3 separate regions of the Homo sapiens genome follow, and regions 1 and 2 are each linked to region 3. The links come from fine-mapping of genetic effects on gene expression. A gene starts in region 3. Each other region holds a variant in brackets. All regions are shown on one strand. Distances are from middle to middle.

Region 1 (11,051 bases), 52 kb after region 3:
TCATTGAAATCCGCCTGCAGTGTACACGTGGGAGTGGGAGCAGAGTGGGTATGCATTGCTATGGCCAGGGTCAAGGTCAAGATTTAGCAAGGCGGTGGAGTGCAAGCTAGTGGCCATCAGAAGACCTGTGTTCTAGAGCTCTGGCTGTGACGAACACTTGCTCTGCCACCCTAGGAGGGGCACCTGGCCTATCTAGGCCCACTTCTCTCAACTGCAAAATCAGGGGCTCAAACTAAGTAGTCTTGGGGGTACTTCCAGCTCTGCCATGCTGTTTCTGATTCTGGGTGGGCAGCTGCCCAGGGAGAGGCAATATTTCAGGTGCTGGTGACTACGGTAGAGGCCTTGGGCTTTTGGGCACCTTCAGAGTTTTAGAAACTTGCTGTTTCTTTTAGGGTTTATCATCTAGGTCAGTAGTTCCATCATCACATTGATTAAAGTACTTTGCCTTCCACCGTGTTTATTGGAGCTACTATAGAAAGGTCTTCTGGTGAGCTGCCGCCAATCTACCTGCTGTGTTTAGTTAGATATCAGGGCAGGAACTGCCCTCCTTCTGAAGGTACCATCCCATTGGGCACCCCCTGCACATGATCAAGTGCTTGCCCTTTCGGGACTTGCAGGTGCTTTGGAAGAGGTAAAGGAGCCTTTCTGAGGTCCCTGAATTCGCAGATGGTACCTGCAGTTGGATCCTGTACCGCTTAGTGGGCCTTAGATGACGTAGCTTTTACAAGGACCATTATACCAAGTATTTGGAAAAACAGTCTGGCAGTACATGTCAAGTGACATTAAAATATGCTAATATGTTTGTCTTTTCATTCCCTTAGGAACCTTTCTTAGGAAATAATTCACTAGAAGAAGGGGGGAGAAAAGCTATAGGCATAAAGTAAGGTGCTTGTTAAGCAGCATGGTGTGACCGAAGAATACTAGACCAAAACCAGTACCTATAGTACTAAAAGTAGGACCAGTCTGTACCAGTGCAGTGGTGACTAAATAAATTAGGGTATTAAATTTCAGTGGCGTATCTGGCACTTGTTAAAGATTTTGATTATGAAAACTAGATAGGAAGAGCAAAATTTGGTGTTGTTAAATGAAAAAGGCAGAACACTTTTTTTTTTTTTTTTTTTTTTTGAGACAGGGTCCCACGCCATCACTCAGGCTAGAGTGCGGTGATGCCATCACGGCTCACTGCAGCCTCAACCTCCCTGGCTCAAGCGATCCTGTCACCTCAGCCTCCCAACTAACTGGGAGTATAGGTTCATGCCACCATGCCCAGCTAATTTAAAAATTTTTTTGTACAGATGGGGATCTCACTTTGTTGCCCAGGCTGATTTTAAACTCCTGAGCTCAAGCGATCCTCCCACCTCAACCTCCCAAAATGCTTCGATTACAGGCATGAGCCATAGTGCTCAGCCAGAACCCCAAATTTATGTTTCTGAAATTTTGTTTATATTTAAAATAGGAAAGTTAAAAAAAACACAAAAATCAATGTGCATGATAATTGCAGCAATGCATGCATGTGGGCCGACTGGAAGATAATAAAGAAAAATTAAAATCTCTTCTATTGGGTGGTAGAATTAAAAATGACTTAAATTAAAAAAATTCTTAGGTGGTATTGTATTGTTTTTATGGTTTAAAAGGGTGGTGGAGAGATGAGAGCCAATAGACTTTGTTCCTGAATCTAGAGCAATTTGTCCAGCTACTTCTGTTTGTTTGGTTCATAGAAACCAGTTCAGAGCAATTTATGGGTTCCTAGTGTTCCAGATGGCTTTTTCTTTTCTTTTCTTTTTCTTTCTTTCTTTCTTTTTTTTTTTTTTTTTTTTTTTTGAGACAGAGTCTCGCTTTGTCACCAGGCTGGAGTGCAAAGGCGCAATCTCGGCTCACTGCAACCTCTGCCTCCCAGGTTCAAGCAATTATCTTGCCTCAGCCTCCCAAGTAGCTGGGACTACAGGTGTGTGCTACCACACCTGGTTAATTTTTTGTATTTTTAGTAGAGATGGGGTTTCACTGTGTTAGCCAGGATGGTCTCAAACTCCTGACCTCGTGATCCACCTGCCTCAGCCTCCCAAAGTGTTGGGATTACAGGCGTGAGCCACTGCACCCGTCCGCCTTTTTCTATTCCTGAACTAGACTGCAAGTGTATTCTGTCATGCATTAAGCTAGTATCTGAGTGCCAGCTGTGTACTGGCTCCTGTTGTGGGTGCTGGGATACAGTGATGAAGTTGCTCTTCGAGCCTGTATTCAAAAGGGTGGTGAGAGACAATGGTCAAGTAAACAAGTCAGGCCATTTCAGAAAGTGGTAACAGTTACTGAGAAAATGAAACGGTGGAGAAAATGAAACAGTGCAAGGAAGCAGCCAGAAAATGGAGGAGTCAGTGGGACAGCACTTACTTTTATAGACCAGCCTCTGCCTGTGGGAAGGAGGGCGCTCCAGGAGGAGGAAGAACTAAGGCTAAGGCTGGAAGGTACAGACCAGCTTGAAGTTTCACAGAACAGGTAGATGGTCTGTAAGAGATGAGAGCAGTGATAGAAACTTGGATATTTTATTAGGCGGAGGTCCCGGGAAGATTTTGAGCAGTGTTGTGGCATGATCTGATTTGCTTTGTGTGTGTGTGTGTGTGTGTGTGGTTTATGTTTGTTTCATATTTTAAGAGTGCAGTTGGATGAGTATTGACAAATGCGTGTAACCACCACCCTAAGCAGGATATAGAACATTTCCATCAATCCCGAAAGTTTCCTTATGTCTCTTTGCAATCAGTTTCCCCAGCAACACCACATACACCTCACTTTATCCCCATCACAGGCTATTGCTGATTTGCTTTCTGTCCCTGTTTTACCTGTTCTAGAATTTGATATTAATAAACGCTTGCAGTAGGCACATTGCATGTGGCTGACTTCTTTCACTCTGGAATAATGTTTTTTAGACTCAACCGCGTTGTTGCATGTATAGTAGTTGTTCCTCTTTTATCACTGAGGAATAAGTAATAAGTTATTGTAAGGCTATTCCATAGTTTATTTGTTTACCAGCTGATGGACACTTAGGTTATTTCTCCTTTTTGGTTATCATAATAACGCTGCTGTGAGCATTCACGTGCACATCTTTGTGTGGATACAGGTTTTCATTTCTCTTGGGTAAATACCCAGAAATGGGATTGCTAAATCACATAGGAGTGCATATTTAACTGTATAAGAAACCACCAAACTGTTTTCCAACGTGGTGGTTTCATTTTACACTCTCACTAGCAATGTATTATGACTTACTTTCTGAAGGGTTCACTCTGGTTACAGTTTGGACTGAGGTTTACGGCATGAATTGAAAATGATATTTCACACTTGATGTAGAAAAGAACCCTTCAAGACAGCTACCAGATTCCAACCCGTAATCACTGATGTCTGGTGTAGGGAAGCTTGAAAGGATGGTGTCTTGTTATTTGGCTGCCCCAGCTCTCCTCTTTTACCATCCAACTTGGATTTAAAGATGAGATTAATTCCTGAATATTCATTCACTCCTTTGCTTTGAGCCTTCTACTAATGGCAGTGAAGGATACAAGTCTTTTACTGTGAGCAATTCTCATCCCAAAGGATTTTCTCTATTCGTATACATACAGGTCAGTCTTGAATATTTGCCGTGTAAATAGCCTCTGCAAAATAACAAGAAGTCATTTTCTAGGGCTGATCTTGATTCTCACTGCTTTTATTTTTTTTTCTGTCCAAAGGGATGATTCAGACAAACATAGCTTCCAAAACTCAAAAGGATGTCATCAGAAGACCAACATTTGTGCCTCAGTGGTATGTGCAGCAGATGAAGAGAGGGCCAGAGTAAGTGTTCTGAAGCAGCTGTTTGCTGACAGATGCTTGAGATGTTCATGCCCTGGGCTCATCAAGTCACTCGTGAATCTGGAGCCTGTTTTCCTGAAAAGTTCCTGTTTGCATTACTCTGCAGTTTCCATTTGCATTATCGATGAGTAAGATGCTTGTTAAGCAGCATGGTGTGACTGAAAGGATACTAGATCGGAAAATGAATTTTCTTTCTGAAAGGGAAGTCTGAGCGAGTCTCCTAAATACTCTGGGCTTTAGCTTCTCCAGCTGTGAAGAGCTGGATTGATGCAGTACACCTAAGGAATAATCATATATACTGGGTTTTTGTTTTGCTGTGGATTCTTTTTTTTTTTTTTTTTTTTAGAGGGGGTCTCACTTTGTTGCCCAGGCTGGTCTTGAACTCCTGAGCTCAAGTGATCCTCCTACCTCAGTCTCCCAAAGTGCTGGGATTACAGGCATGAGCCACCGTGCCTGGCTTTGCTGTGGATTCTTTTGGGTGTCTTTTGTTTTCCTACACGATTTATAGAGGATGAGGGGCGGAGAAAGAGATAGAAAAAAGGGATGAGCTAGCTGTTAGAGCAAGGGTTTTGGTGAGAGATAATATTGATTGAAGGGATTTTAAAGGAAATGTTGCTGTGGGGGATTCATTGTAACTCTCCTTGTGAACTGCTCAGTAAACTCTACATTGTTCATGAACATTTTTGGAGTTGGATATTTTTTTTCTGGGTGATGTGTGATTACATAAAACAGGCTTCAAGAGAAGTATAAAATCAAGGTGTTCTAACTAGGTTCTTTTGGTTGTAAGAATTCAAGCTATTTGATGAAAAAGGAAGTTACTAAAAAGATAAATAACTATGAAGTCATATGGAAAACAACTCGCAAGAATCTAAGAATGGAAACTGAGCTATATCAGGGCCTCAGGAAGGGGAGTTGCTTCCTATTCTGCTTTAGAACTGCAGCAGCCTAGAGTCAAAGATTCTTTCTTGGGACCAGGTTAACAGCCTGGATGCTGGATCTAGCTCACCTAGGTTCAAATTCCACCTTGCCACCCATTAGCTGTGTGGATTTGGACAAATGAATCACTCTGTATATCCTCATCTGTAAAATGGGCTTAATAATAATACCTTCCTCACGGTTGCTTGGGTAACACATTCCGAACACTGATCAGGTGTTCAGAAAATGTTAACTGCTCTGGTTATTATTATTTTTATTCCCCTGCTATTAATAGACTTAGTAACTATATATATAATTAAGTTGACTTAATTCTAATTCATAATTCCAACCTGCATATCTCTTCAGCCTTATCTTCTGCCACTAACTGCCTAATTTTCTCTGAATTTCTCAAGTTGATTTCCCAAGAATTAGAATCTGATTGGTGTAGCTATCTAAAGTCCCTTTCAGTAAATTTTTTTTTTTTTTTTGACAGAGTCTTACTCTGTCACCCAGGTTGGAGTGTAGTGGCACAATTTCGGCTCACTGCAACCTCTGCCTCCCTGGTTGAAGTGATTCTCCTGCCTCAGCCTCCTGAGTAGCTGGGACTACAGGCACATGGCACTATGCTCAGCTAATTTTTGTATTTTTAATAGAGACAGGGTTTCACCGTGAGGGCCAGGCTGGTCTCGAACTCTTGACCTCAGGTGATCCACCTGCCTCAGCCTCCCAAAGTGCTGGGATGACAGGCATGAGCCACTGCACTTGGCCCCTTCCTGTAGTTTAAATATTCAAATTAATAAAGTAAAAAGAATATTTCAGGGTTTAGGGAAGAGAGGAGTAAATCTCATGCCCTCACGGGAGCTTACATTCTGGTGGATGAGGCAATAACTATTTCAGTTCCTGACAAATGTTAGGTGGGGGAAAAAGGCAGAGTAGGAGGATGGGGAGGGGCTGTTCACATTCAGCCAATGAATGAGATCATCAGAGCTGCTTTCCATTCGTTACAATCGTTACAATCGTTCTGGCAGGATGTCTTCACAAAAGTGTGTTGGAACTGTCTTTCCTTAAAGCAACAAAACTGCATTTTTTTTTTTAAAGTTCCGGTAATTTTGATTTTTTAACAATTCAGATACTCCCAGTTAGTCTCAACTAGTGAGACCATGCTTTATGGCCCTTCCAGACAGCAGGAACTGTGGAAAGCATAGTAAACCTTGACGCCAAGCTGGATGGTTCTTTCTGTGCACATGTATTTCTAGGGGAAAAAATTGCTTTGTGGCATTTCCAGATAGCTCCTGTAGTCAGCCATTGTCGATCTCAAGAACTTCCATATGTCAGAGTTGCTTCGTGCTTTTCCATTTGCTCTTCCCCTCTCCAGGAATACTCCTTCCCGTCATTCACATGAATACAGCACCCCTCACGATTTAGCTGGAATGCCACTTTCCCATACTATAACATTCCTTGTGATTCTCCTCCAATTCTCCAACACTCGAGATTCCCTTATAGTACTTACCCACTTCTACCTTGTAATACAGTTACTTATGTAAATGTCTCTAGCACAACCTTCCCTCCTCCTCCCTTCCCCCTCCCTCCCCACCAACCTCAATTATCAGCTCCTCAGAGCTCTTGAAATATTTTGGTGTTTTTTTGTGGGGGGGGGGGGGGTTGGGGGTTAGGTTGCTGGGGTGCAGTGGCGCAATCACAGCTCACTGCAGCCTCAACCTCTCGGACTCGGGTGATCCTCCCACTGCAGTCACCCAAGTAACTAGGACTATGGGTGCACACCGCTACACCTGACTAATTTTTTTATTTTTTAATAGAGACACGGTTTCTCCAGGTTGCCCAGGCTGTCTTGGAATAGTTTGTATAATGCATGGCACATAGTGATAATAAACAGCCACATGAATAAAAAAAATAAATTAGAAAAACATGTTAGTGGGGGAGGGTGGGGGGTGGGTCATGCAGAGAACCAAATTTAATCCTGCTCTCACTAGCCCAAGGAGACACACTTGCTGTAGGATAGAATAAGGGCTGGGGTACTATCCTGAACTACAGTGGGACATAGAAGTGAACTACGGCACACGTCACTGTTCATGGGCATCTTACAACATATTCATTCAGTCTATCCCATGTTATACAAATCCAGAATGGAAACCTGACCTTAAAATAGAGATAAACTGGGGCCAATCTTTCTCATTCTAATGAGTCACCTTCTTCTTTAAAGAGTTTTTTCCTTCAAGCATTTATTTTTTAAAATGTAATTGTTGGCCGGGCGCGGTGGCTCACGTCTGTAATCCCAGCACTGTGGGAGGCTGAGGTGGGCGGATCACGAGGTCAGGAGATCGAGACCATCCTGGCTAACACGGTGAAACCCCATCTCTACTAAAAATAACAAAAAAATTAGCCGGGCGTGGTGGCGGGCGCCTGTAGTCCCAGCTACTCGGGAGGCTGAGGCAGGAGAATGGCGTGAACCCGGGAGGCGGAGCTTGCAGTGAGCCGAGATCGCGCCACTGCACTCCAGCCTGGGCAACAGAGGGAGACTCCGTCTCAAAAAAAAAAAAAAAAAAAAAAAATGTAATTGTTTTGATCATGGAAAATTTCAAACATAAAGTACAAAGAATTGATAATAAACCCCTGAGTACCTATCATCCAACTTAAACACTGTCAATATTTTACTATCTTTGTAACGTATTTGTAGTAGTGGTAACAATATTGTTACTACCATCACCTCTAAATTTTTTTTTTCTTTGAGAAAGAGTCTCACTCTGCATGCAGGTTAGAGTGCAGTGGTGTGATCATGGCTCACTGCAGCCTCAAACACCTGGATTCATGTGATTCTCCTGCCTTAGCCTCCTGAGTAGCTGCAACTACAGCCGTGCACCACCACACCTGGATAATTTAAAAAAAATGTTTCTAGAGATGGGGAGGGGGATCCCACTGTGTTGCTCAGGCAGGTCTTAAACTCCAGAGCTCAAGCAATCCTCCTGCTTCGGCCTCCCAAAGTGCTGGGATTATAGGGATGAGCCACCACACCTGGCCTAACTTTTTTTCTTTTGCTGGAATATTTTAATGTAAATCCAATACATGTTATCATTTCCCTGTATATATATTAGGTGTCTTCCTAACAGGTAAGAGGTTTTAAAAAACATAATACAATATCATTAACCTATGTAACAAAGTTAATGATAATTCCTTAATATCATCTAATACCCAGTTCACGTTTTATGTTTTCCCATTGTCTTAAACAATGACTATTTAGAGTTGA[G/A]GTATTGCAAATCAGTATCTAAGCAGGGTCTGTACATTGTGTTTGGTTGATTTGTGTCATAAATATCTTTTAGTCTACTACAGTTTCCCCTCCTCTACTTTTTTCATGCAATTTCATTTTTAAGAAATCAGATAGGCCAGGTGTGGTGGCTCATGCCTGTAATCCTAGCACTTTGGGAGGCCAAGGCAGAAGGATTGCTTGAGCCCAGGAGTTTAAGACCAGCCTGGGCAACATGGTGAGTTGAGACCCCATCTCTACAAAAACTTTTTAAAAAGTTAGACAGGTGTGGTGGTACACACTTGTGGTCCCAGCTACTCAAGAGGTTGAGGTGGGAGGATCACTTGAGCCCAGGAGGTTGAGCTGTCTTTGCACCATTGTACTCAGCCTGGGCAACAGAGTGAGACTGTCTCAAAAAAAAAAAAAAAGAAAAGAAAAGAAAAAGAAAAAGGAAAAAAAAAAAACAATAAAAACAACGACTAGGTGATTTGACCTATAGAATTTTCCAAATTCAAAATGTAGAAAATTAACCTGGCATGCTGGCTGATGCTTATAATCCTAGCACTTTGGGAGGTTGAGGTGGGAGGATCACTTGGGCTCAGGAGGTTGAGGATATAGTGAGCCATGATCACACCACTGTACTTCAGCCTGGGTGACAGAGTGAAACTCTGTCTCAAAACAGATTAGCAAATTGTTTCCTCATGGGGTCATTTGATGTGTAATTTCTATAAATTGATCATTAGATTTAGGGAACTGATTAGATTTAGGTTCAGTTTTGAGTCAAGTATGCTATACAATTGATGGCTTCGTACCAGTGGTTCTGTCCCATCTTATGAAGAGATATACAGTGTCTGATTGTCCTATTTTTAGTGATGGAGATCACAGAGTAGGTTCAGGTCATTCCAGTCTGATCATTCCACTATACTATTCATCTGATCTTTCACTTAATGGTTTTAGTAGCTAATGATAATGATTGTTTAGAACCATGATGTCATTAAGTATTGCCAAATGGTGGTTTTCTAATTCTATCAACTCTTTTGCAACTATTAGTGTGATTCATCTATAAAGAAGAATTTTTCTGGTAGCTTTAGCTCTATGGGATAGAAAAAGAAAATTACTTCTCAGGTATGGTTACCCTGAAATACAGTTCATACTGGAAAGGCAGAATTCTTTCCTCTAAATTCCTAATATATTTAATCGTTTATCCTTTGACCAAGAAGCTGTAAGACACATTTGCTTAATGCTAACACATTAGGACCTTTGAAAGTTGAGCAGAAATATAAAAAAGAGTCAATACTTTTACATTTTAAGTCAATAGGAAAATGGCATTTAATTGACCGATTATGAATAGTTGCAGCATTTTTAAAAGACATGATTACTGGTACATCTATACCAGGAATATGTGAGGATGTAGTCCAGAGAAAAATACAGAAATAAATATTGTGTATTTCTCTAGGCATCCTTGGCCTAGTGGCTGGAAGTTAAGAGAAAACATCACTTGGGCCTGTGGAGCAGAGAGTTAAGTGAATTCTTTCTCTTTATTTGTAGCCATCAGCCAGCAAAGACCTCGTCAGTGTCTTTAACTGCGACCTTTCGTCCTCAGGAGGACTTTTGCTTCCTATCCTCAAAGAAATATAAGGTACTTGGTTTTACATGTTTGGTGGATGAGTCTGTTAAAAGTTAGAAAAAGTACTTTGCTACAAGTGTATGTGTTTGTCTGGATGAATGAATTGCTCCCGCAAAACTCTTAGATCGGCTGGGTGCAGTGGCTCAGCCCTGTAATCCTAGCATTTTGGGAGGCCGAGGCGAGTGGATTGCCTGAGCTCAGGAGTTCGAAACCAGCCTGGACAACACGGTGAAACCCTGTCTCTACCGAAAATACAAAAAAATTAGCCGGGCATGGCGGCATGAGCCTGTAGTCCCAGCTACTTGGGATGCTGAGACAGGAGAATTGCCTGTACCCGGGAGGCGGAGGTTGCAGCGAGCCGAGATCGCGCCACTGCACTCCTGCCCACTGCACTGCAGCCTGGGCGACAGAGTGAGACTCTGTCTCCAAAAAACAAACAACAACAACAAACACTCTTAGATCAAGGTAGAAAGGCAGTCATCTAATGGTTCTCTTTCCCAGAGATCACCTAACTGCTACAAGGCACCTCATTGTTTCCAGAGTTCAGCCACACACAGTCTCATTTGGGCAGATCCTCGCAACAGCCATGTGAAATGGATATTAACATCTCTATTTTATGGACAAGAAAACTAGAACTCACAGAGTAAAAGTGACTTGTCCGTTAGTTACAATTAACAAGTTTCTATGGGAGTCAAACAAACTGTGCCTCACTGTGTCACTTAACCTAGTTGGATCACAACTATTCCTAGATTGCTTAGCCTCCCCATGCTGGCTTCAGCTTTTGTGCAGGCTGGTCTGCTTGGACTGCATGGCACCTCAATTCCTCTTCCCTTGCATTGGGAAGAGGTTACTGGACTAACTCAGACTGCAGGGGACTTCCCTTTTCCCTTAGGCACAGTGCTTTGCTAGCTTTCAGTTGGCCTGGACAGACAGGCCCGCTGCCTCTCTGATTAATTACGGGAATGAGTTGGCAGATGTGGGAACCCTAAGCCAGCTCATCCTATCTGCTGTTAGAAAGAACCCTGGTAACAATACTTCATGGCATAAGGGGGCACATATGTGGATGTATCATGCTTTAAATGTTTCCTATTTCACATTTATCTATTTTTAAACTTTATTAGTTGTCAGAGATCCATCACCTACATCCAGAATATGTCAGAGTAAGTGAGCATTTTAAAGCTTCCATGAAAAATTTCAAGATTGAAAAGATAAAGAAGATCGAGAACTCAGAGCTCCTGGATAAATTTACATGGTTGGTGGCCACGTTATCGTGTTTCTTTACATAAAACCGGAAAGGATTAGTTAATATCCGTCCTTTGAGATTTATATTCACTGATTTATTTTAGTAGTTAACAGTTCCTTTAGGCGCTAGTCTTTTTTTTTTTTTTTCATTCTATCAACTCTGGCTTCTCTCTCTCA
Region 2 (5,481 bases), 61 kb after region 3:
AACTTCAGCCCCTCAAGTAACTGGGACAACAGGTGTGTGCCACCACATCCAGCTAATTTTTTTTTGTTGTATTTTTTATAGAGACAGGGTTTCGCCATGTTGCCAAGGCTGGTCTCAACTCCTGAGCTCAAATAATCCGCCTACCTTGGCCTGCCAAAGTGCTGGGATTTCAGGCATGAGCCACTGCTCCTGGATGCATGCAACTCTTTTTTTTTTTTTTTTTTTTTTTGGAGACAGAGTTTCGCTTTTATTGCCCAGGCTGGAGTGCAATGGCTCGATCTCGGTTCACTGCAACCTTCACCTCCTTGGTTCAAGTGATTCTCCTGCCTCAGCCTCTCAAGTAGCTGGGATTACAGGCATGTGCCACCACGCCCAGCTAATTTTGTATTTTCAGTAGAGACTGGGTTTCTCCATGTTGGTCAGGCTGGTCTAGAACTCCTGACCTCAGGGGATCTGCCTGCCTTGGCCTCCCAAAGTGCTGGGATTACAGGTGTGAGCCACTGCGCCTGGCCTGCATGCAACTCTTAAAAACAAACAAACCAGAGGGGAGGGGGGTGGGGGGAGGGATAGCATTAGGAGATATACCTAATGCTACGTGACGAGTTAATGGGTGCAGCACACCAACATGGCGCAGGTACACATATGTAACAAACCTGCACGTTGTGCACATGTACCCTAAAACTTAAAGTAAAATAACAATAAAATGAAAAAAAAAGAAAAAAAGAGAAATATTTATGAATGTAAATGTTTATTGTCCATTTTTAACTAATAAGCAAGCTTACTAAAAACTGCACTTCACACTTAGCTTAATGTTTGAGGGAATTAACTTCATAAATAAAAACTAGAAAATTAAAAAAACAAAAAAAAAACTAAGAATCAGTCATCTTTAGGAAATAAGTAATAGTTTATCACAGATTCAAAGTGAGTTCAACTCATACAACTAGGATTAAATTCAATTCTTGCCCCAAAAGGCAAGAAGTCAATCAGCCAGTCAGCAAATATTTTTGAGTGTCTTCTGTACACTAGATGGTGGGTACACAGTGGTGAACAAGTTAGACATGGCCCCAAACACATTTTGCATAATTATCTTACATAATTAATTAAATGACTGTGGCCAGGCATGGTAGCTTAGACCTGTAATTCCTGTACTTTGGGAGGCTGAGGTGGGAGGATCACTTGAGCCCAGGAGTTGGAGACCAGCTTGGGCAACATGGCGAGACCTTATCTAATTTTTTGTTTTAATTACAAACAAATTTTTTTAATTACCTGGGCATGATGGCACATGCCTGTAGTCCCATCTACTCAGCAGGGTGAGGTGGGAGAATTGCTTGAGCCCAGAAGTTTGAGGCTGCAGTGAGCTGTGATTGTGCCACTGTACTCTAGCCTGGGCGACAGAGCAACATTTTGTCTCAAAAAAAAAAAAAAAAAAATTAAATGATTGCAAATGTTGGGCTGCTATAGAGAAAAATAACAGATCCAGGTCAGGCGCGGCAGCTTCGCCTGTAATCCCAGCACTTTGGGAGACCGAGACAGGCAGATCACTTGAGGTCAGGAGTTCAAGACCAGCCTGGTCAACATGGTGAAACCCCGTTTCTACTAAAAATACAAAAATTAGCTGGGTGCAGTGGCCCATGCCTGTAATCCCAGCTACTTGGGAGGCTGAGGCAGGATAATCGCTTGAACCCGGGAGGCAGAGGTTGCGGTGAGCTGAGATCATGCCATTGCACACCAGCCGAGACTCCGTCTCAAAAAAAAAAAAAAGAAAAAAGAAAAAAAGGAACAGGTCCTGTGGACAACTAACCCAGCTAGAGAGGTGTTCCCAAGGATAGAGATAGAGTAGGATTCCCCTGCCTTGTAGAGTCACCACATGGCGGAGAAGGGAGAAATGGAACAAGGTATGACCATAAAGAGCTAAACTTGACTGTAAGCGCATGGGAAACTAATGAAAGGTTTTAAGCTGGGGAATGAATTTATTGATGAGATTTCATAAGTTTATTAAGTTTAAATGTATCAGTGAAACTTACCTAGAAGTGTTTGGAGGAAATGGGAAATGTAGTAACCATCTTAAGTGACATATGATAGGTGAAATTAAAACCCATCAGTTTCTTACAGGTCTATCCTATGTTAGAATTCAAACAAATATTTATCCTAAAAAATGAAATGTTAGGCTAGGCACTGTGGCTCATTCCTGTAATCCCAGCACTTTGGGAGGCCGAGGTGAGTGAATCACCTGAGGTCAGGAGTTTGAGACCAGCCTGACCAACATGGTGAAACCCCCCCATCTCTAATAAAAATACAAAGTTAGCTGGGCGTGGTGGCACATGCCTGTAGTCCTAGCTACTCGAGAGGCTGAGGCATGAGAGTTGATTGATCACAAGAAGGGGAGGCTGCAGTGAGCTGAGATCCTGCCACTGCACTCCAGCCTCAGTGACAGAGGAAAACTCTGTCTCAAAAAAGAAAAAAATAAAGCACTCAGAAATGTAGGAATAGAAATGAACTTTCTTAACACAATAAAGGGAATTTTAAAAAAAGAAAATATAGATTCCAGATTATATAAGTGTGATATAAAAAAACTGATGCAACAAAAACAAAAATGGACAAATGAGATAGCATCAAACTAAAAAGCTTCTCCACAGTAAAGGAAACAATTAACAAAGTGAACAGACAAACCCACAGAGTGGGAGAAAATATTTGCAAGCCATACATCTGATATGGGATTAATATCCAAAATATGTAAGGAACTTAAACAATTCAACAGCAAGAGAACAAATAACTCAATTTTAAAATGTGCAAGCTGTTCCCATAAGTGGCCTGCGGTGATCTGTGAAAATGGTTCACTATTCACTTGACCCAGAAAACTCCATGAAATCATGCAAATAAAGAGGTTCAAATCTTCATGTTCACTCTAAGGACACCCATGAAACTGCCCAGGCCATCAAGAGTACGCCTATATGAAAAGCCAGCAAATGTCTGAAAGATGTCACTGTATGGAAACAATGTGTACCATTCCAACGTTACGAGGGTGGAGTTGGTAGGAGTGCCCAGACCAAACAGTGGGGCTGGGCACGCAGTTTGTGACCCCAAAAGAATTGAATTCTTGCTGTACACACTTAAAAATGCAGAGAGTAATGCTGAACGTAAGGGTTGAGCTGTAGATTCTCTGGTCGTCGAGGATATTCAGGCGCACAAAGCACCCAAGATGTGCCACCAGACTTCCAGAGCTCATGGTTGGATTAACTCATGCCTAAGCTCCCCCTGCCACATAGAGACAATCTTCCTGAAGAAGCACACCGTGTTCCTAAACCAGAAGAGGAGGTGCACAGAAGAAAAAGCTATCCTAGAAGATACTGAAGAAGCAAAAACTTACAGCA[C/T]GGGAATAAATTCAGCGTAAAATACATGCAAATAAAAGTTTCAAAAATGGGCAAAAGACTTGAATAGACATTTCTCAAAAGAAGAAATACAAATGGCCAATGAGTTCATGAAAAAATGCTCAACATCGCTAATCATCAAGCAAACGCAAATTAAAACCACAATGAGCTGTTGCCTCGCACCGATTAGAATGGGAGGCTGAGGTGGGAAGATTGCTTGAGCCCAGGATATCAAGGCTGCAGTGAGCCAAGATTGCACCACTGCACCCCAGCCTGGGTGACAGAGACCCTGTCTCAAAAACAGCAGCAACAACAACAACAACGAAAAAAAAAAAAAAAAAAGGAGAGAGAGAGAGTTGGATGTACTGACATAGCAAGATTTCTAGGACTAAAGTGGAAAAAAAAGTTGTAGAACAGTTCATATATTATGATCCTATTTATGAACAAGTAAACCACCATAAACCACCATATGCACATATATGTATGTGAATGCATAGAAACAGGTGTGAAAGAATTCCCGCCAGCCATAAACTGTTTTGGGAAGGGGAGTGGGATTGGACGTCGTAGGTCAGTATAGGTAGACTTCCATATTTTACTTTAAATATAGTAGAACATCATTTGCACAGAATATCTAGTATCTGACCTATTCAGGATAAGCAATGTTTCTGGAATTCAAACATCTAACTATAAAATGATAAAAAGAACAAAAACAAAGTAGATGGGAAGTATATTAAACATTTGTTACCACAAGTAAAACAATTCATTTTACTTATTGATTCTTGCATGGAAATAGGAGTTGCAATATCTACTCATGGTCTTTAAAACGACAGAGTAGCTTTCTTAGAAAATATTATTAGTATTTTTTGATACAGAATCTCACTCTGTTGCCCAGGCTGGAGTGCAGTGGTATGATCCTAGCTTACTGCAGCCTCAACTTCCTGGGCTCAATCAATCCTGCCTCAGCTTCCTGAGTAGCTGAGATTACAAGTGCACGCCACCATGCCCGGCTAATTTTTAAATTTTTTGTAGAGATGGAGTCTCCCCATGTTGCCCAGGCTGGTCTCAAATTCCTGGGCTCATGTGATCCACCCGCCTCAACCTCCCATAATGCTGGGATTACAGACATGAGCCACTGCACCTGCCCAGAGTAGCACTTGACAATGATAAAAATAAAAATTTTAACTTGGCAGGAAATTGTTGGTCTGCTGTGTATGGAAGCAGCAATCGTTATCTGAGGTTGTTTTAGAGTTGAGGACGAAGCATCAACTGACTCATCAGTTCCAAGTTTGCTCATTCAGCTCACACTGGGTGAATTGCATGAATTGGGCCACTGTGACATTGTCATTTGGTCATTGCACCCAATGGCTCACACTATCAGCATGAGCTCTGCACTGTAGCAAATATTCCTCAGTCATTTCTATAGGGTTATATACTGTATTTAAGTTCGCCTGCATCATTAACATGTTTTTAAGTGCAAAGGAAAGTTTATAAATATCAGTAAGGTATTATTGACATATGCTTAGTCCACACCCATCTGACTGTATATAACAAATCTTATAAACTGTATACCTTCTTTTATAATATTTCTTAACTTTTCTTTCTGATTCTTTCTAGGAATTTACTTTGCAAAAGATGCCATCTATTCCCACAAAAATTGCCCGTATGATGCCAAAAACGTCGTTATGTTTGTAGCCCAAGTTCTGGTTGGAAAGTTTACTGAAGGAAATATAACGTACACGAGCCCTCCTCCACAGTTCGACAGCTGTGTGGATACCAGATCGAATCCCTCCGTTTTTGTCATCTTTCAGAAAGATCAGGTTTACCCACAATATGTGATTGAATATACTGAAGACAAAGCCTGCGTGATTAGTTAGAACCGATGAATACAGCGTCAGAAGGATGCCATAACCATTCTGTTCCTTTACAGAACTAAATTGCCGCAGACAGGAGTTAAAGTTTTATATTTTCCTGCTCAGTTATCTAATGTCTTAGATCAGTGGTCCCCAAATTTTGCTACATATTAGAATCATCTGGGAGGTTTTAAACAAATTCTGATGCCCAGGTTGCACCCCATGCCAATGAAATCATTTCTGGGCGTCAGCGCCAGGCAGTT
Region 3 (7,675 bases):
TAGACACACCAAGTGATAAGGTCAGGGCGGGTCAGTATCAAAGCCATCATAGGATAAAACTGGTACATCTGGGACTGAACACAAGTGGGACCAGAGGGCACACGCACACTCAAGCTGCATGAGCAATTAGCCCAGATTTCCATGTCATTCACTACGGTTGCACCAGCACCCCTCCCCCAGCCTCACCTGTGGTCATGTGAGGGGGTCCCATATAACCAGCTAAAGGAGGAGGGAAAAAGACCAAGTTTGCGTTAAGGATGGGCTAGCTTAATATGTGGGTACAAGCTGAAAATGCATGGCAGCTATATTACAGTCTCACTCAGGGAAGTCCTTGAAAAACAGTGGTAAGGGAAAATCTCCCCAGCGGGAGGAGCTTTGAGAGTGTACCTAGTCATCACTTCGTATGGAAGGAGTATGGCCTAGGGTTAGAACATACATGGTCTCATGGGCAGTGATGGTGGCCTGGCTGGGAGTTTGGGAGCCTAAAAGTAAAAGGAAGCATATGAATAGATGTATGGAAGTGGGCAGTTCATATCACATTAAGACCCACAAAAGATGTGCCAACTACACAAAATAACTTGGCCAGTTAATGTTGGCCAGGCTTAGTGACAGGCCCCCTCCCCCACTGCTGCTCAAAGAGGCCATGGTGGCCAGGAGATGGAAGCGATGCAAGAACCTAACAGCATAGATTATCATTTGCCAAAATAAACACAGCTACTGCCACCTCTGAGTGTCTGATCTGCCAGCCATAAAGACCAATGCTAAGCTCTATTCCTTAAGGAGACCAATAGACTACTTGGGGACCAGTAGACTGCATCGGGCCCCTTTTGTCCTGGCAGAACCATCGGTGGTTCTCACAAGAAGAGGCAGTTATTCTGGATTTGGGGTTGCCCTTCCTCCCTGCAGAGCCTCAGTAGTAGCACTCTTTTTTTTTTTTTTTAGATGGAATTTCACTCTTGTTGCCCAGGCTGGAGTGCAATAGTGCGATCTCAGCTCACTGCAACCTCTGCCTTCTGGGTTCAAGCGATTATCCTGCCTCAGCCTCCCAAATAGCTGGGATTACAGGCGTGTGCTACCACACCCGGCTAATTTTGTATTATTAGTAGACACAGGGTTTCACCATGATGGTCAGGCTGGTCTGGAACTCCTGACCTCAAGTGATCCCCCTGCCTCAGCCTCCCAAAGTGATGAGATTACAGGCTTGAACCACCGTGCCCGGCCAGTAGCACCACTTTCTGGAGACTTAAAGATTGCCCGATCCACAGACATGGAATCACACTTAACATAGCATCTTATCAGGTGAATCTTTTCATGGCACAGAAAGTGGAGGGAATGAACCCATGAACATGGTACTATCCATGGTCCTATCATACACTTCACCACCCAGTAGCTATAGGATGAAGTATTGGAATGGCTAGTTAAAGATGGAGTCAAGCACCAGAATGGAGCTGATACCCTACAATGATGACACAGACTCCAGAACATCGTGGTATATGCCTTGAATCGGTCAAGTTAGTATGGTACTGTGTCCATACATGAGTCTGGAAAGAATGGGTAAGCCTGAGTGGCCCTACTTAGTATAATTCCAATGACCCCCTGCAATTTCCTCTCCCAGCAATGCTGGGCTCTGCAGAGTTATAGGTCTTGGTTCCCCAAAGGGGCACACTCTTGCCTGGAGATACCACAGAGATCCCACTGGACTACTGTGATGGCTGTCACCAGGTACTTTGGCCTCCTAATGGTCAGAGACTAGCAAGTAAGAAAGGGAATGGCCATCTTATTCGAGGTAACTGTTGCTGGTCAGCAGGAGGTGTGGCTGTTGTTACACAATGTGGGCAGGTGGAATATGTATGGAATTCTGGTGACCTATTTTGGTGTCTCTTGGTAATCCTTTGCCCAGCTGGGACTGAGATGTGCTCAGACCACTTTCAAATAGGGCACCCGACCAGATTAAGCTACTGAGAGCAGCTGAGGTGGTGGCCAAGGGTGAGAGGGATTGGAATGGATAGTGGTAGAGGGATATGATGAGGACCAGACCACCAGCTGTGGCCTTGAGACCAACTGCAGTGACAAGGACTATAGTTCATTCCACTAATTTCTCTCTGGTAAGCTTCCTTGTAGGAAGAGTGACCCTGAAAAGCCTGTTCCCTAAATACAAATGGATAAAGAAAGCCATGTAGTACAAAGGGTGGACTACAGCTGACACAGGGTGGCACTCAGGTCAAGCTTGCAGCCCAGCTTTGAGGAGCATGTTTAGCCAATATCCTCCAGCTTTAGCTCTTTCAAGATCTGCCCCAGCATTCGAGCTGAAGTCATCCACTTCTCTGGTGGCCCCCACCGGTGACTGAGCAAGGCAGTACAAGGGCCTAGCCTTTTCTGTCCAAAGCTGGACTCCTACTCCAGAGCTCCTCATTGGGCTGGCAGAGACTTTGTTAGGTCCGCACAAAAGTCTGATAGGCCCCATGGATCAATCATGCTTTTTCCTTTGACTTTTTCTGGCATTATGCCCCAGAAAAAGTGCAGAGAAAGTTCTGCACTCTTAACTCCATGTCAGGATCTCCTTCCTGGAGAACCCAATCTCTGATGGCACATATTTCAAAATTTTTCAAAATGTCTCCTTTTCCCTTCCCAGAACTCCTTAAATCACCTTTCTCTTTCACTTTCCCTTTCTTTTTTCCTTTCACTTTCCCTTCTTTTTTCCCCTTTTCCTTTTCCTTCCTTTTTTTCCTTTTCCTTCCTTTTCCCCTTTCCTTTCCCTTCTTTCCTTTCCCTTCCTTCCTTTCCTTTCTCTTCCTTTCCTTTCCCTTCCTTTCTTTCCTTTCCCTCCCTTTCCCTTTCCATTTCCCTTTCTCTTTCATTTTCACTTTCCCTTTCCCTTTCTCTGTCACTTTCCATTTCCGTTTCCCTTTCCCTTTCCCTCTCTTCCCTTTCCAAAAGGATCTTCCTCTGTTGCCTTTGCTGGAGTGCAGTGGCACAATTGTAGCTCACTGCAACCTTGAACTCCCGGGCTCAAGAAATCCTCCCGCCGCAGCCTCCCAAGTAGTTGGGACTACAGGCACATACCACTATGTCTGGCTAATTTTTATTTTTAGTGGAGATGAGGTCTCGCTATGTTGCCCAGGTGGATCTCACAGTATGTTGCCCAGGATGGTCATGATCCTCCCGCCTTGGCCTCCCAAAGTGTTGGGATTACAGGCACAAGCCACTGCACCTGGCCCTTAAATCATTTTTCATGGCTTCAAATTGGAGGAGATTCTATGTCTGTACTCCCAACCACTGTAGCCAAACTAGACTCTTCAGTCTCTCATCTTCTATATTCCCATTGTGGCATTTACCCATGAATTTGCTTATATTTCCATGCATTTTTTCATGTCTTCGCATACATGCTCCTTGAGTGCAGGGACTGTTTTTTAAACTTCTGCATGTCCTTACATTACTAACTAATGTAAATACCACATAGAAGATAGTCAATAAACATCTAGAACTTAGTTGATTTGATAATAAAAGGTCCCTGGGAACCTGTCAGACCACAAATAAGGCCAAGTGGATTAAAAGACAACTATAGAAGCAGCAACTAGAGGGAACAAGATGTCCCTCTTAGACATCCTAAGATGATCCTATGTGGCCCCCATGTTTGGCTGGTTTTCATAACAAAGTACTCTATTCCTGAAAGAGGGTTTATATACCATGAATGACAAAACTGAGGAGAATTCTCATTAATCATTTTGAAGAATTTCTAAGTTAGCAACCAGAATCTATTATTTTTTAAAAAGATGTATTTCTTATCTGATCAAATGACCCATCTATTTTATTTGAAGATGTTGGAAAAAAAAACCTTTTTTCTCTTCAACTTGTGTCCTGTCTTTGGGGGCCTAAAAATTAACTGGCACTAGACAGATAAATAGGAGAAAAGACAAAGTTTATTTACACATGCATGCAGGAGCTTCCAGTAACAGAAAACTCAAAAGTAAAGGTTTATATACCTCAACTTAACAAAAAGGAAAGTTTTAGGGCTTCAGTAGGAGAGTTTGGAAGTTTTGATTGGGTTGTTTTGTGTTTTTGAGACAAAGTCTCAGCGCTATCCCCCAGGCTGGAGTGCAGTGGCACAATCCCGGCTCGTTGCAGCCTCCTCCCGTGCTCAAGCAATCCTCCCACCTCAGGCTCCCGAGTAGCTGGGACTGCGGCTGCACACCACCATGCCCGGGTTGTTTTTATTATTATTATTATTATTATTATTATTATTATTATTATTATTATTGAAGAGAGCTCACTATGTTGCCCAGGCTAGTCTTGAACTCCTGGGTTCAAGCAATCCTCCCACTGCCTCGGCTTCCTAAAGCGCTGGGATTACGGGCTGAGCCACAGCACCCAGCCCATTGGGTTTTTTGGTGCTAATGGTAATGGGACAGTCTGTCTTCCTGGCAGCTGAATACTCCGAGAGGCTTTTAATGGCACCATGTTTTCGGGAGGTTTTGCTTTAGTCAGATAAGGGAAGTTTCATTAAGATTTCTTTCTACATCTTCTGTAGCTCAATGTTTTCACTTAAAAACAATCTTTATGTCAACTCTGGGGGTCAAAGTACGTCCCCACGGTGGAAAAGTTCTTGTCCCAATCTCTACGGGGAGGAACCGATCTGAAATCTTGGGATATGTCTTAGCATGTCCACCGTGATTGAGGTACAAGCAGTGGTTCAGGGCACCGAGTTAGCGATTCTAGGTAAGCAAGACCATGTCAAGAAGTGGTTTGTCCAAAAGTTCGTGAGAAGGCAGAAACGAGGGAGAGTGGCAATCGTTGTTCTTTAAGAGGGCACGGTGGTGGAGGAGAAACTTGCACATCGGGGCCTGGGGTACCACGATCTGGGGCCTGGGGACGCGATTTGGGGAAACTCGGTGGCATCTGGGCTCCGCTTGATGCCAGTGCGTGTTCGTGCAAGTTACTTCCTCAAGTTCAGGGTGAGGATAATAATATCTACCATGTGGAGTTGCTGGGAAGATTCACTACCAACAGAGGCAGAGCGCACGGCTCGCAGGAAGCGCTCGCTAGGGTCTGCTCTTTCCGGGAATGGGTGGGGTGCGCACTCCTCAACAGGGCTCTCAGGACTTGCGTCACACGCCTCAGTCGGCTGGCTTATAAAACACCGGCCAGAGCCCCAAGATCGCTTTTAGTTTCTCTTCTTTCTAAAGAAGGCTCGCGGAGCCCGGCTGGAGAACCTCACCCTCGCCGAGCCTAGAACCGAGAGGGGGCCACCCCAGGCGGTCACCAGCAGATTTGCCCGCGCGTTCTCTTTCTTTCCACCCAGTTGCCCTTGCGGCCGGCTGTAAACCTGCCACTAGGACCCGGTCGGTGAGATCTAGCCTCTTGACCTGAGAGCCGAGAGTGGATCGCTGGGCTGGGCTAACGGCGACGGAGAGCGCGCCCTCGCTGACTCCGGGCGCGCCCAGCAGTAGCACCGCCCGCGCCCGCCCCTGGACACTTGTAAGTTTCGATTTCCGATTTCCGCGGAACCGAGTCCCGCGCCGCGGCAGAGCCAGCACAGCCAGCGCGCCATGGCGGACCCGGAGGTGTGCTGCTTCATCACCAAAATCCTGTGCGCCCACGGGGGCCGCATGGCCCTGGACGCGCTGCTCCAGGAGATCGCGCTGTCTGAGCCGCAGCTCTGTGAGGTGCTGCAGGTGGCCGGGCCCGACCGCTTTGTGGTGTTGGAGACCGGCGGCGAGGCCGGGATCACCCGATCGGTGGTGGCCACCACTCGAGCCCGGGTCTGCCGTCGCAAGTACTGCCAGAGACCCTGCGATAACCTGCATCTCTGCAAACTCAACTTGCTGGGCCGGTGCAACTATTCGCAGTCCGAGCGGTGAGTGCACCCGGAGGGAGGGGCGCTGTCCGCAGCCGTGGTCGGGGTGGACTGTCCAGGCGGGCAATGTTCTGGGAGGGGCACGGCTTCGCCGGGACCCCGCACCTGACAGCCTCCGCCTCCAGCCACTCCCTTCTCTGCTCCCCTCTGGGAGCCTCTGCAGGGCCCGCGCTTCTACCTTTGCAGTTCCCTTCCTTCCGGCACCTCCAGACATTTTCTCGAGAATGGCTAAAATGCTAGTGCCTGGAGGAGACCAGGCTCAACCTCCACCCCTTTCCCCGCCCGCCCGCACGAATCAGAAGAATAAAGTGCTCTGGAGCCAGCCAGGGCCTAGAGAAGCGGTAGGCAGGTTTGGGAAGGAAGGAAAGAGCCTCCCGTCTTTGGTATCTTGAGTCTTTCCCTCCCTACTACCTCCTTCCCTAGACGTGGCGGAGCCAGTAACCCAGCCGCCCTGGGCCCCCGGTCCGTCTCCGCCGGAGCGAGCCGCAGGTCTCTCTGCTTGTCCCTCCCTTCCCGGTCACCCCCATGCCCCTCATCACCGCTTTTCTGATGCCTGGCGCGTAGCAGGGGTGGCCCTTTTCCAGGTTCCTGAAGTTGTAGCAGCCGCGGGCCTTCCCTCCGGGTGGTCTCTCTACGGTGGCGCGCGCAGTTGACCGCCTGCCTTGGGACAACTCTCTTAAATCCCTTTGAAGCAGTGTGGCTCACGTCTCGGGCCACTGCTTCTGTTGTTTCCGTTTGCCTTTTTTTTTTTTCGTCTAAATGCAGATGCGCTGCAAGGTTTGGGTTAAGACTCTTGAGTGATTTTCTTCCCAGTTTCTCCCTAAGAGAGCTTGCTCCCTCGAGGACAGCTGCACATCTAAAAAGATGGCTTCCAGGTCCACATTCGCTGCCCAGGCCTTTCCCTTGATCCCAAGCCCTTCCTCTCCCGCGTGTGTCCTGTCCATGGAGTCAAACTCATCTTTTCCCCCAGGCAGGGTTTTAATCCTCCTCACAATCTGTCATCACCAAGTCCTTTTTGTGAAGTCTCTTTCCCTTCTTGGCGGATTCTGCCTTCCCATCTAATTTCTGAATGAACTGAATGAACGCCTTGTTGAATTAATGAATGGCCAGTCTTTCCTCCCACCCTTTCTGTCACTATGTGCTCTGCTCAATTACTTTTCTCGATACAGTACTTTTTACACTTGGCCCATTCTTAAACACTTTGACTTGTGTCCCAGGGTTTAAAATGGTTGTCAGCAAACTTTTTAGGCTGGAGTGCAGTGGCTCCACCTCGGTTCACTGCAACCTCCACCTCCCAGGTTCAAGCGATTCTCCTGCCTCAGCCTCCCGAGTAGCTGGGATTACAGGCATGCACCATCGCACCCGGCCAATTTTTGTATTTTTAGTAGAGACAGGGTTTCACCATGTTGGCCAGGCTGGTCTCGAACTCCTGACCTCAGGTGATCCACTTGTCTCAGCCTCCCAAAGTGCTGGGATTACAGGCATAAGCCACCAAGTCCGACCAGTCGGCAAACTTTTGATCACGCACCTAACAAAAACTCCAGTCACTCACCCCCAATATACGTGTAATAAAACACACAAAGGTAAGTGTTTTAGATGGATGAGGTAGAGGACGCAATGTATTTTTTTAAAAATTTCTTTAGAGCAAAAACCCTTTCAGCTCACTCTAACGTTTTTAAAAAGTGCTTGAATGTGTTCCTTTATTTAAAATTTTCTTTAATATGTTGTGGGGCAACAATTTGAAGGTTGTTTCTGAGTTGCTGGGAGTTATGGGTATCGAGGAAATCATCTAAGTCATTGCTGGTCACTGAAGAAATCTCT

What was found. PIP is the estimated chance that this variant, and not a neighbour inherited with it, causes the effect.
Region 1: its variant is the best candidate, but not a certain one, in a credible set for the expression of ZC3HAV1 in whole blood (TOPMed, PIP 0.88).
Region 2: its variant is the best candidate, but not a certain one, in a credible set for the expression of ZC3HAV1 in whole blood (TOPMed, PIP 0.88).

The regions. Positions count from the first base shown.
Region 1 is chr7:139,053,798-139,064,848 of GRCh38, reverse strand. ZC3HAV1 (zinc finger CCCH-type containing, antiviral 1) reads left to right here. Exons shown (of 13, transcript NM_020119.4): 9 at 3,711-3,813; 10 at 9,554-9,644; 11 at 10,754-10,884. Among named protein-coding and RNA genes, the nearest start is that of MIR10399, 15 kb to the right of the region's middle. The variant G/A (reference allele first, on the strand shown) is at 8,009.
Region 2 is chr7:139,047,355-139,052,835 of GRCh38, reverse strand. ZC3HAV1 (zinc finger CCCH-type containing, antiviral 1) reads left to right here. Exons shown (of 13, transcript NM_020119.4): 13 at 4,983-5,481. The coding sequence ends at 5,242. It also overlaps the pseudogene RPL17P28. Among named protein-coding and RNA genes, the nearest start is that of MIR10399, 5.9 kb to the right of the region's middle. The variant C/T (reference allele first, on the strand shown) is at 3,372.
Region 3 is chr7:139,107,203-139,114,877 of GRCh38, reverse strand. It overlaps ZC3HAV1 (zinc finger CCCH-type containing, antiviral 1), which reads left to right and starts at 5,158. Exons shown (of 13, transcript NM_020119.4): 1 at 5,158-5,854. The coding sequence starts at 5,547. RefSeq lists enhancers at 5,050-5,209, 5,002-5,505, 5,450-5,549, 6,130-6,259.